Linked DNA regions of Homo sapiens: region 2 is linked to region 1. The links come from fine-mapping of genetic effects on gene expression. A gene starts in region 1. The other region holds a variant in brackets. All regions are shown on one strand. Distances are from middle to middle. Region 1 holds the start of OOEP (oocyte expressed protein). Region 2 overlaps DDX43 (DEAD-box helicase 43).

The links. PIP is the estimated chance that this variant, and not a neighbour inherited with it, causes the effect. A credible set is the group of variants that fine-mapping cannot tell apart.
Region 2: its variant is the best candidate, but not a certain one, in a credible set for the expression of OOEP in visceral fat (GTEx, PIP 0.86).

What each region holds. Positions count from the first base shown.
Region 1 is chr6:73,367,317-73,372,697 of GRCh38, forward strand. It overlaps OOEP (oocyte expressed protein), which reads right to left and starts at 2,581. Exons shown (of 3, transcript NM_001080507.3): 1 at 2,287-2,581; 2 at 1,890-2,069; 3 at 1,239-1,547. The coding sequence starts at 2,476. The coding sequence ends at 1,468. It overlaps OOEP-AS1 (OOEP antisense RNA 1), which reads left to right and starts at 2,388. Exons shown (of 2, transcript NR_174946.1): 1 at 2,388-2,769.
Region 2 is chr6:73,409,530-73,414,910 of GRCh38, forward strand. It overlaps DDX43 (DEAD-box helicase 43), which reads left to right. Exons shown (of 17, transcript NM_018665.3): 11 at 2,676-2,763; 12 at 4,129-4,256; 13 at 4,441-4,550; 14 at 5,019-5,157. Among named protein-coding and RNA genes, the nearest start is that of DDX43, 17 kb to the left of the region's middle. The variant G/A (reference allele first, on the strand shown) is at 2,903.

The DNA of each region.
Region 1 (5,381 bases):
AAGCTGGGCACGGTGGCTCACGCCTGTAATCCCAGCACTTTGGGAGGCTGAGGTGGACGGATCACGAGGTCAGGAGATGGAGACCATCCTGGCTAACACAATGAAACCCCGTCTCTACTAAAATACAAAAAAAAAATTAGCCGGGCATGGTGGCGGGCGCCTGCAGTCCCAGCTACTCGGGAGGCTGAGGCAGGAGAATGGGGTGAACCTGGGAGGCGGAGCGTACAGTGAGCCGAGATTGCGCCACTGCACCCCAGCCTGGGGGACAGAGCGACTCCATCTCAAAAAAAAAAAAAAAAAAAAAAAGGAATGAATAAAGAAAAATGTAAAACTGAAACAAAGAAAATATTCAACATCACCTCTAATCAAAAAAGCACAATTAAAGAGACTTGTGAGTTTAAAACGCTTGCAAAAGGCTAGAATACTTTATTGCCAAGGAGTGAATAAATTCCATGAGTCAAACCAATCCAAACTGTGCTTGAACCCACAGGGCTTTTGGCACCTTTCGCCCCAAAAATTCTACTTCCAGAAAGTGGGGCGGCAAGGATAGGAGCTGTTTTGCAGAGATTGGTAATTTCAGTACAACACGTAGTGGAAAAACAACCTGGCCCATGCCGGACACCCGTGCAGCCTCGCCTTGTAGAAAAAGGTAGACAGCCGGCTCCAAGGCAGGGCGCCATCCACGAGCCAAGGTGCCTGGGAACCCTGCTCTTCCGTGGTAAATCGAAAACTACCATTAATGAACGCTGACCGCCCAGGCTTGCTTCTTGCAACGTCATCCTCTGCCCAATGGATGCCCCACTCCAGGAAAACGCACAGCTGGTGCTCTTCGGGGGATCAATTACCAGCTTCAAAGTGAGAGCCTCAGATAAGCTGCTTTAGTAGTATGTGTGAGCTCATCAGAAATGAAATTTTAAGCCCCACCCCAAAAGTACTGAATCAGAATTCTCTGGAGAAGGAGCCAAGGAAATTGTGTTTTAACAAGCTCCCAAGGTGATTTCTTACAAGCTTTAAAGTTTGAGGACCAATTATGTAAAAACAAAACAGATCACCATTTGTGAGGTTATCTGCCCCTGCATATCCGCTCCCTGTGGGTGAGGGCCTCTCTCTGACCAGAAAATCATAAAAGGATTAGGAGTTTCAAAATGATGGGAATTCAGGAAAAAAAAACAAAAACAAAAACCTACAAAACTATCACCTGCCCACCCTTCATATCAAAACATGAGTGGGAGTCAATCTTTTATAAATTTGCTTTATTATAAGTGTGTGAAGATCTTAATGCTTTTGGCAAAATAGCCATTTCTTTATTAGAATAGTTCAAACTCACTCTTGCAACAAAATAAACCACAATCCATCAAGACACAGGAAAAAGGAATACGGGGATTTAAGAATGCTATACTTGCTTTTCTTCAACTTTAGCAGCAAAAGTTAGAAAGTTAAGATGTTCCCAACAGTAACTATGTTGTCTTAAGCAACAGGATCCTGGGGAGAGTGGGGGTCTGATGCATGGGCCTTCAAGTTCTTCTCAAGGTGTTTCATCTTCTCAGCTGGAAGAGAAGCAGTTGATACTAACCATGGACAGGGACAAGTGTTTGCTGTTTCGAACTACTCCGTGACTGGGAGTTGGGGAGGAGAGAAAGATCTGCGATAGTGCTGTAACCCAGGTGAGGCTGACTTGGGCAGTGATGGGTCTGAATCTATCAGATCTCTGCTGACTTTCCCAAGGTCCTACCCCAGGATCCCCTCCCAACAAACTTCGTACAGCTAGCTCCCTGGGGTCTGGAAACCAAGAAATTTTGAGAAGGTTAAGGGAGGATGGAAGGAAACCGAGCAAGGCCAGTATGGTCACTCGTGGCTTCCTCCACATGCAGGTTCTCAAAGACCCTCACCTCGGGCACGATGTTCTCGGTGAAACCATGCCAGGCACAGGAGCATGCTCTTCACCCGATTCTGTACACGGGGCCGCCCGAAAACGGTGATTTCGACTAGGTTCCCTGAGTCCACTATGTCCACTGTCAGCAGGGCCTGGCTCGTCCACTCCATTTCTGGAATTATGGCTCGGTCTGGGCCTAAACAAGTAAGGAAAAACTCTGAGGGGCTGCACGGTGGCAGGTTAGAAGCTGGATTTGAAGGGAATGTTGGCCAGGGAAGGGAAGAACTGGAAGGTGGGCATCACTGCAACACTCCTGGCTTGCGAATCTGGGAAAGAGACTGTAGAGAGCTGCTCTGCCAAGCCTCTCTCAGACTGGAGGTGGACAGCCCACTAGCACACCTGGGGTCGCTCACCAAAGAGCTCGTCTGCCAGCCATGCCTCTAGGTAGAACACCAAAGGGTCTCTCAGTTCCTGCACCGGAAACCACCAGGGCCGGATGCGAATCTGTGGCGGCGGAAGTGGTAACCTACGCAGCTGCTCCAGGGAGTGGGCCGGAGTCTGTTTGCCCCGCTGGGACTCAGCGGCACCAGCATCATCGACCATACTGGGACCAGCAGCCGCGGAGCGCGCTCGAGGCGGCTTTCGCAAGACCTCTTCCAGACCCAGGCGCGAAGCTCGGGCTCTCTTTTACCATATTCGACCCGCTCCGCCCCTTCCGGCGGCGCCTCGCACCGCGTCGGGGTGAGCGGGTGCAAGCGACGCCCCGGCATAGCGGCACCATTGGACACTTCCTGCGCTGCTTCAATCGCCGGGATTGCCTCTTTGACCTTGAACTAGTATTCATTTGGCCTCCTGTTGGGTCTCCAATGCTCTCCTTCGTCATCTCTGCTCGTAAGGTATGCTTAGCCTGAAAGTCCTCTGCCCACCTTATAGCTGATTAACAGTGTGAGTTTGAATTGACGACTCTATTAATAGACTGGGAATCACCTTTGCTGGCTAGGTTAAGGTTTCATCGTTGCCTCCCAAAGATAGGTATATCGGACCCAGGGCAGGCTTGTTCAATGTGTCAGTTTTCTCTGTTCTGCTCCCTGTTGTTATCTTCTGACTCTCCGGATGGTTACCATTTTTAAATCATTCAAGCAAGTGTGTCATGTTTTAAACAACACGTCAGAGGTGGTCTTATAGAACATGTAGCAAGTTAGACAATTTTCCTTTATTTCCAGTATCCTAAGACAACCATTATCGATGGACATTTTTTCCCAATGTTTGTAATTTTAATTAAAAATTTGGATTATGAAAGGTTTCACACATCCAAAAAAGTAATATAACACGGCCATGTACCCTCCCCGAGTTTAACAGATGTTGACATTTCCCCACATTTGCCTCACTCCTCTGTTTTTAAAACAGATATTACTCAAGCATCTTTCCTTTCCTTCTCCAGAGGAAATCATCCTGAAGCTAGTGTGTATATATCATCCCCATGCATGTCCTTACACATTTTCTACTATATTTGTAGAAATATTGTTTGGTTGTTTCAGAATAGTATCTGCTGAATATACTATTTCGTTCTTACAATTAACTATGTGTTTGTTTTAAAACTTCTATTTTTCTGAGATAGGTCTCACTCTCTTGCCTAGGCTGGAATGCAGTGGCACGATCTCGGTTCACTGAAGCCTCGACCTCCCAGGCCTAAGCGACCCTCCCATCTCAGCCTCCTGAGTAGCTGAGACCACAGGCACCTGCCACCACACCCAGCTATTTTCCAGCTCTTTTTGTTGTTGTTGTTGTTTGTCTGTTTGTAGAGACAGGGTCCCACTATGTTGCCAGGCTGGTTTTGAACTCCTAGGCTCAAGCAGTCCTCTCACTTTGGCCTCCCAAAGTGCTGGGATTACAGGCGTGAGCCACCACAGCCAGCATAGAAGAAAAAACTCAAAATAGTGAAAAGCATGTTCCAGACTCCACATGATCATCTAGGACTGTGTGGAGGTTCCAGTTTTCTGCCCCTGATCCCACCCCCTCTCACCCTCAATGGTTTCTGAGAAAACTTGACTATCAGGTGTGCAGGGCATACTTACAGGAAAACAAGATTTAGCTATGGCTCTGATGCAATAAACATTTAAAACCTTAACCTGGCCAGGCAAGGTGGCTCATGCCTATAATCCCAGCACTTCGGGAGGCCAAGGCAGGAGGATCACTTGAGGTCAGGAGTTTGAGACCAGCCTGACCAACATGGAGAAAACCGGTCTCTACTAAAAATACAAAAATTAGATGGGTGTGGGCCAGACACGGTCACTCATGCCTGTAATCCCAGCACTTTGGGAGGCTGAGGCGGGCAGATCACCTGAGGTCGGGAGTTCGAGACCAGCCTGACCAACATGGAGAAACCTAGTCTGTACTAAAAATACAAAAGATTAGCCGGACATGGTGGTGCATGCCTATAATCCCAGCTACTCAGGAGGCTGAGGCAGGAGAATCACTTGAACCCAGGAGGCGGAGGTTGTCGTGAGCCAAGATCACACCATTGCACTCCAGCCTGGACAACAAGAGCAAAACTCTGTCTCAAAAATAAAAAAAAATAAAAATAAAAAAATTTGGCCAGTGTGTGGTGGTTACCTGCAATCCCAGCTACTCGAAAGGATGAGGCAGGAGAATTGCTTGAACCCCAGAGGCAGAGGTTGCAGTGAGCCAAAATGGCACCACTACACTCCAGCCTGGGCTACAGAGTGAGACTCCATCTCAAAAAACAAACAAAAACCCCTTAACCTAATCAAGGCCAGATATTGTGGCTCGTGCCTGTAATCCCAGCCCTTTAGGAGGTGGAGGCTAGCAGATCGCTTAAGCCAAGGGGTTTGAGGGTGCAGTGAGCCATGATCACACCACTGCACTCCTGCTTGGGTGACAGAGCGAGACCCTAAAAATAAACCTAAAAAAATTAAAGCCTTAATCTAATCATGAGACGCACTTACATTACTGTAGACAAAGAATATTTTACCCAGCATGTATAGAATTTTAACAGCTTCTTTAGGGGGACTGTGGTGATCTGAGCCACACAGGAATAAGTTAACTTCTCTCAAATTCCACTTCCTGGTGTGGAAAAGATGGCACCCCATTATCTTGTGGGGATCTTCTGCCATAAACCCCACATAAATCCCCAGCATGCTGGACACCGTGAAGCAGTTAGTCTCAGATACAACTCAGTCTCAGGTGTAGCCCAACAGTGGCTAGTTCAGTTATTTCTTCCTCAAGGAAGAAATGATCCTGTGGGATTACTGCTCTCCCCTGAGGAAAGAACCTCCCTGCTCAGTGAGAGGCCAGAATCTGATTCGCAAGTGTTGGTTTCGCATCTCTCAGCTTTGGGGAGACCGATAGGCCTTTGCACCTGAGCCTGCCAAAACAGGAGGGCTATTGTGCAAGAAAACCTTTTGGGAGCTCAGTCAGTCACGTGGGCCTCCTTGGAAGCCTGGGGACAAGTGGGCAGTTTTCCCGAGTGCATGGAAGCCAACACCAG
Region 2 (5,381 bases), 42 kb after region 1:
TTCCTAAGTTACAGATAGGGATTTCAACACAAACATTTACTTATCATAGTAAGGTCTCACTTTTGAATAAAGGGTTCACTTGTCTAAGGAGATAAGCATTTGATTACTGAATACTTATTGCTCACAATAAAACAGGAAGCAATGATTATTTGAATGAGTGATCTATAAAGAATGATATCTCCTAGGCTTATATCCTTTATTAGTATAAATAACAACATTGGCTGGGCAAACTGGCTCACGCCTATAATCCCAGCTCTTTGGGAGGCCGAGGTGGGTGGATCACCCGAGGTCAGGAGTTTGAGGCCAGCCTGGCCAACATGGTGAAACCTCGTCTCTACTAAAAATACAAACTTAGCCGGGCATAGTGGCGCACACTTGTAGTCCCAGCTACTAGGAAGACTGAGGCAGGAGGATCGTTTGAACCTGGGAGGTAGAGGTTGCACTGAGCCAAGATCATGCCACTGCACTCCAGTCTGGGCAACAAGAGTGAAAATCTGTCTCAAAAAAAAAAAAAAAAGAATGATATATCCTGGGCTTATATACTTTGTCTTTATTAGTATAAATAATATAAAATTTAAAAAATACAAAATCCCCTCACATAGTTTTATTACAAATAACCTTCCTATTTCAAGAAAAGTGAATGTATTTATTTATTTTGAGACAAAGTCTCGCTGACACTCAAGCTGGAGTGCAGCAGCGCGATCTCGGCTAACTGCAACCTCTGCCTCCCGGGTTCAAGCAATTCTCCTGTCTCAGCCTCCTGAGTAGCTGGGACTACAGGCACACGTCACCATGCCCAGCTAATTATTGTATTTTTACCGATGGGGTTTCGCCATGTTGGCCAGGCTGGTCTCAAACTCCTGACCTCAGGTGATTCATCTGTCTAGGCCTCCCAAAGTGCTGGGATTACAAGCTTGAGCCACGATGCCCAGCCCAAGAAAAGAGAACTTAGATTTTATTGAATTACTGTGAAGGTATACAAAGTGGTCACTTTCATTATTTTATATATAGTTGAGGAAACATTTAAATGCAGATATTCTTTGATCAGTATATTTTGAAGGTTTGTTTTGTTTTGCGTTTTGAGACAGGGTCTCACTCTGTCACCCAGGATGGAATGCAGTGGCACCATTTTGCCTCACTGCAGTCTCAGCCTTCCCAGCTCAAGCGATTCTCCCACCTCAGCCTTCTGAGTAACTGGAACTACAGGTGCATGCCACCACACCCAGCTCATTTTTGTATTTTTTGTAGAGACAGGGTTATCACCATGTTGCCCATGCTAGTCTTGAACTCCTGAGCTCAAGTGATCCACCCACCTAAGCCTCCCAAAGTGCTGGGATTACAGGCATGAGCCAACAACCTTTTAAAAGATTTTTATGGCCAGGCGCCGTGGCTCACGCCTGTAATCCCAGCACTTTGGGAGGCCGAGACGAGCGAATCACGAGGTCAGGAGATCGAGACCATCCTGGCTAACACGGTGAAACCCCGTCTCTACTAAATTTACCCGGGAGTGGTGGCGGGCGCCTATAGTCCCAGCTACTCGGGAGCCTGAGGCAGGAGAATGGCGTGAACCTGGGAGGCGGAGCTTGCAGTGAGCCGAGATCACGCCACTGCACTCCAACCTGGGTGACAGAGCAAGACTCCATCTCAAAAAAAAAAAAAAAAAAAAAAAAATTTATTTGGCTTAAATACTTGGTATTGCCTGCTGACCCTATGAAAAATTGGAATTTTTTTGTCGTTTATAAAGGCCAGGAGATAAAATTAACCTAATAGTAATCCCTTTTAGTACCTTTTTTTCTTTTCTTTCTTTTTTTTTTTTTGAGACAGAGTCTCACTCTGTCACCCAGGCTGGAGTGCAGTGGCATGATCTCCACTCACTGCAACCTCTGCTTCCCAGATTCAAGTGATTCTTCTGCCTCAGCCTCCCGAGTAGCTGGGATTATAGGCACGCACCACCACGCCTGACTTATTTTTGTATTTTTAGTAGGCACAGACTTTCCCCATGTTGACCAGGCTGGTCTCAAACTCCTGACCTCAAGTGATCCGCCTCTCCTCAGCCTCGCAAAGTGCTGGGATTACAGGCATGAGCCACCACACACGGCCTTAGCTTTTCATAGATTAGTATTTAGTTGAAGGTGTACAGGTATCCTTTGGTTCATAAAAACCTAGTATTTATTTACTTATTTATGAGACGGAGTTTCGCTTTTGTTGCGGTGGCTGGAGTATAGTGGCACAATCTTGGCTCACTGCAACCTCCGCCTCCTGGGCTCAAGCCATTTTCCTGCCTCAGCCTCCGGAGTAGCTGGGATTACAGGCGTCCGCTAACACACCCAGCTGATTTTTGTATTTTCAGTAGAGACGTGGTTTTATCATGTTGGCCAGGCTAGTCTTGAACTCCTGACCTCAGGTGATCCACCCGCCTTGGCCTCCCGAAGTGCTGGGATTACAGGCGTGAGCCACTGGGCCCAGCCAAAAACCTATTTATTAAACATATTTGTTTCATCTAATAGCTTTACAGTAGTTGAGTAATTAGTGAATTAACTGTTAAATTTGCCTTACTTATTGAAAAAATAAGTACTAAATTTGTCTTTCATGAGTAACTTGGTTCATAGCATGCTTAAGGAAACATAGTAATGTTTTTACAACAAAATTGTAATGTTTGTAACTTGTATTCCCAGTGCTACATGGCCTCATTCAGTTCATCGCCTCGCACAATCTTATTTGAAAGAACCAATGATTGTCTATGTTGGTACATTGGATCTAGTTGTAAGCTTTTTTTTATTACTATTGTTTAACATTTCTTATGAAAATTCTGAAGATAGCTAATTTTGGTGTGCCTAGTCTGCCCACTCCCCAATTTTAGGGCAAATCACACTTGCATATAGTTTTAATAGAGCTGTAATAC[G/A]ATTATCTCATTTGAAATTTCAATAATCAGCTAATACCATCAACCTCTAGTCAGGGCCTATATATGTATAGAGAGAGAGAGAGAGAGAGTGTGTGTGTGTGTGTGTTTGTGTCAGAGTCTCACTGTATTGCCCAGGCTGGAGTGCAGTGGGGTGATCTCGGCTCACTGCAACCTCTGCCTCCTGGGTTCAAGTGATATATATATATAGTGTGTGTGTGTGTGTGTGTGTGTGTGTGTGCGCGCGCGCGTGTGTGTGTGTGCGCGTGCGTGCGCACGCATGTGCAAGTGATATATAGCGTGTGTGTGTGTGTGTGTGTGTGTCAGAGTCTCACTGTATTGCCCAGGCTGGAGTGCAGTGGGGTGATCTCAGCTCACTGCAACCTCTGCCTCCTGGGTTCAAGTGATTCTTGTGCCTCAGCCTCCTGAGTAGCTGGGGTTACAAACATGGCTACTACTCCTGGCTAAGTTTTGTATTTTAGTAGAGACAGGGTTTTGCCATGTTGGCCAGGCTGGTCTCAAACTCCTGACCTCAGGCGATCTGCCCCCTTGGCCTCCCAAAGTGCTGGGATTACAGGCGTGAGCCACCGCACCCAGCAAAGTCAGGGTTTATATTTTTCTGATACCTAATTTTAACCCTGTTAGAATCAGGGTCTAAACGTAGGTCTACATATATACATAAATATAAGTCTGTTCCCTTTATGAAGTTAAGACTGAATATTGGGTTCATGTGTTGTCAGTGGGAACCCTCCATTATAATATAAAGTTCTCTTTCTGGCTTTTTGCTTAATCATTAATAAATGAAATTGGCCTTTCACTTAATCATTAATAATAATGGGTCATTGCTTACACCCCTTATTTCATTAGAGATTTACAAATGGTGATCCATTTAACATTTGTTTTATAAAATGGTTAGCGACATTGCGCCACTGCACTCCAGCCCTGGCGACAGAGTGAGACTCTGTCTCAAAAATAAATAAATGAAATAAAATGATTAGAGACAAATAGTTGGTTGAAGGAATGGTACCAATAGTATTTTGAGGTTAAGTGACATCTAAGATACAAATCTTGAGTAGAAACAGGTAATTTTTTTAGGACGTCTGCCATTTTGCTTAGCAGTTTATTAAAAACATTAACCAATGAGAGAGAAGATGCATTTTGAGCTGATGTATGCGGTCTCACCCTCAATCATGATGACCTTGATGAACTATGTTCTTTGAATCCTTTAGGCTGTAAGTTCAGTGAAGCAAAATATAATTGTAACCACCGAGGAAGAGAAATGGAGTCACATGCAAACTTTTCTACAGAGTATGTCATCCACAGACAAAGTCATTGTCTTCGTTTCTCGAAAAGCTGTGTAGGTATTTTTTCTTGTGTGTCCATTATAATTAATTAAATTGATTAGGATCATTTCTATTTGTATACTAATTCCAAATGGGGGTGATAAGTCTGTTATGTTACTTTAGATTTTTGCTAACAGAAGTAAAACTGGTGGCATTAGAATAAGCACCTAAGAATGCTGAGTTTATCTTTTGCTTCAGTGCGGATCACTTATCAAGTGACCTAATACTTGGAAATATATCAGTAGAGTCTCTGCATGGAGATAGAGAACAGAGAGATCGGGAGAAAGCATTAGAGAACTTTAAAACAGGTATGTTTATGTAATTAGTATTTCATACAGTTTAAAATTAGTGCAATACCTGGGCTTGGCTGAGTAACATCTTTTCATGAAACCCATTTATTTCTAAGATCTGTCCTCACCTTCTGTATCCTACAACTACACTCATTAGAGCTCTAAACATTAATCTGCCTTTAAGTATTAAATAAACACAAGACTTTAAACTTGGATATCAAGGTATTAATATGCAACAGAAAATATATCTGAAGTTATCTGAAAAATGTATCTTTCTGTCATGGTTCGAAGGGTTTAGGACCCATTTGCTGAACCATGGTATCTTGTAACTTGCCGGCAGTTACTTTTCCATTTTCACAAAGTAAGCATTTTAATGTAAACAGTAAGAAATAAAATTGATTAAATTAGTTAGGGCAAATATTATTTTTAGATCTTGGGTTGGTTTATACCAGAATGGTTCAGTGTTCATTTGGCTTTACTTTTTAGGCAAAGTGAGAATACTAATTGCAACTGATCTAGCCTCTAGAGGACTTGATGTCCATGACGTTACACATGTCTATAATTTTGACTTTCCACGGAATATTGAAGAATACGTACACCGAATAGGGCGCACGGGAAGAGCAGGGTAAGTAAGCTTAGTCCACCCATGAAAGGCCAATTCTAGATTCTCCTTATTCCTCTCACAAACTTCTTGCCCAGAAAACCATTTTATTCTATTACCTATAATTTTTCAGCTACTTCCCAGATTATACTTGCTACTTTATTTATCCCTGTTCATTTGGCTTGTTCCAGACTCAACCAGATTCCATCCATGATTAGCTTCTTATATCTGGTTCTATGTGTTTTATA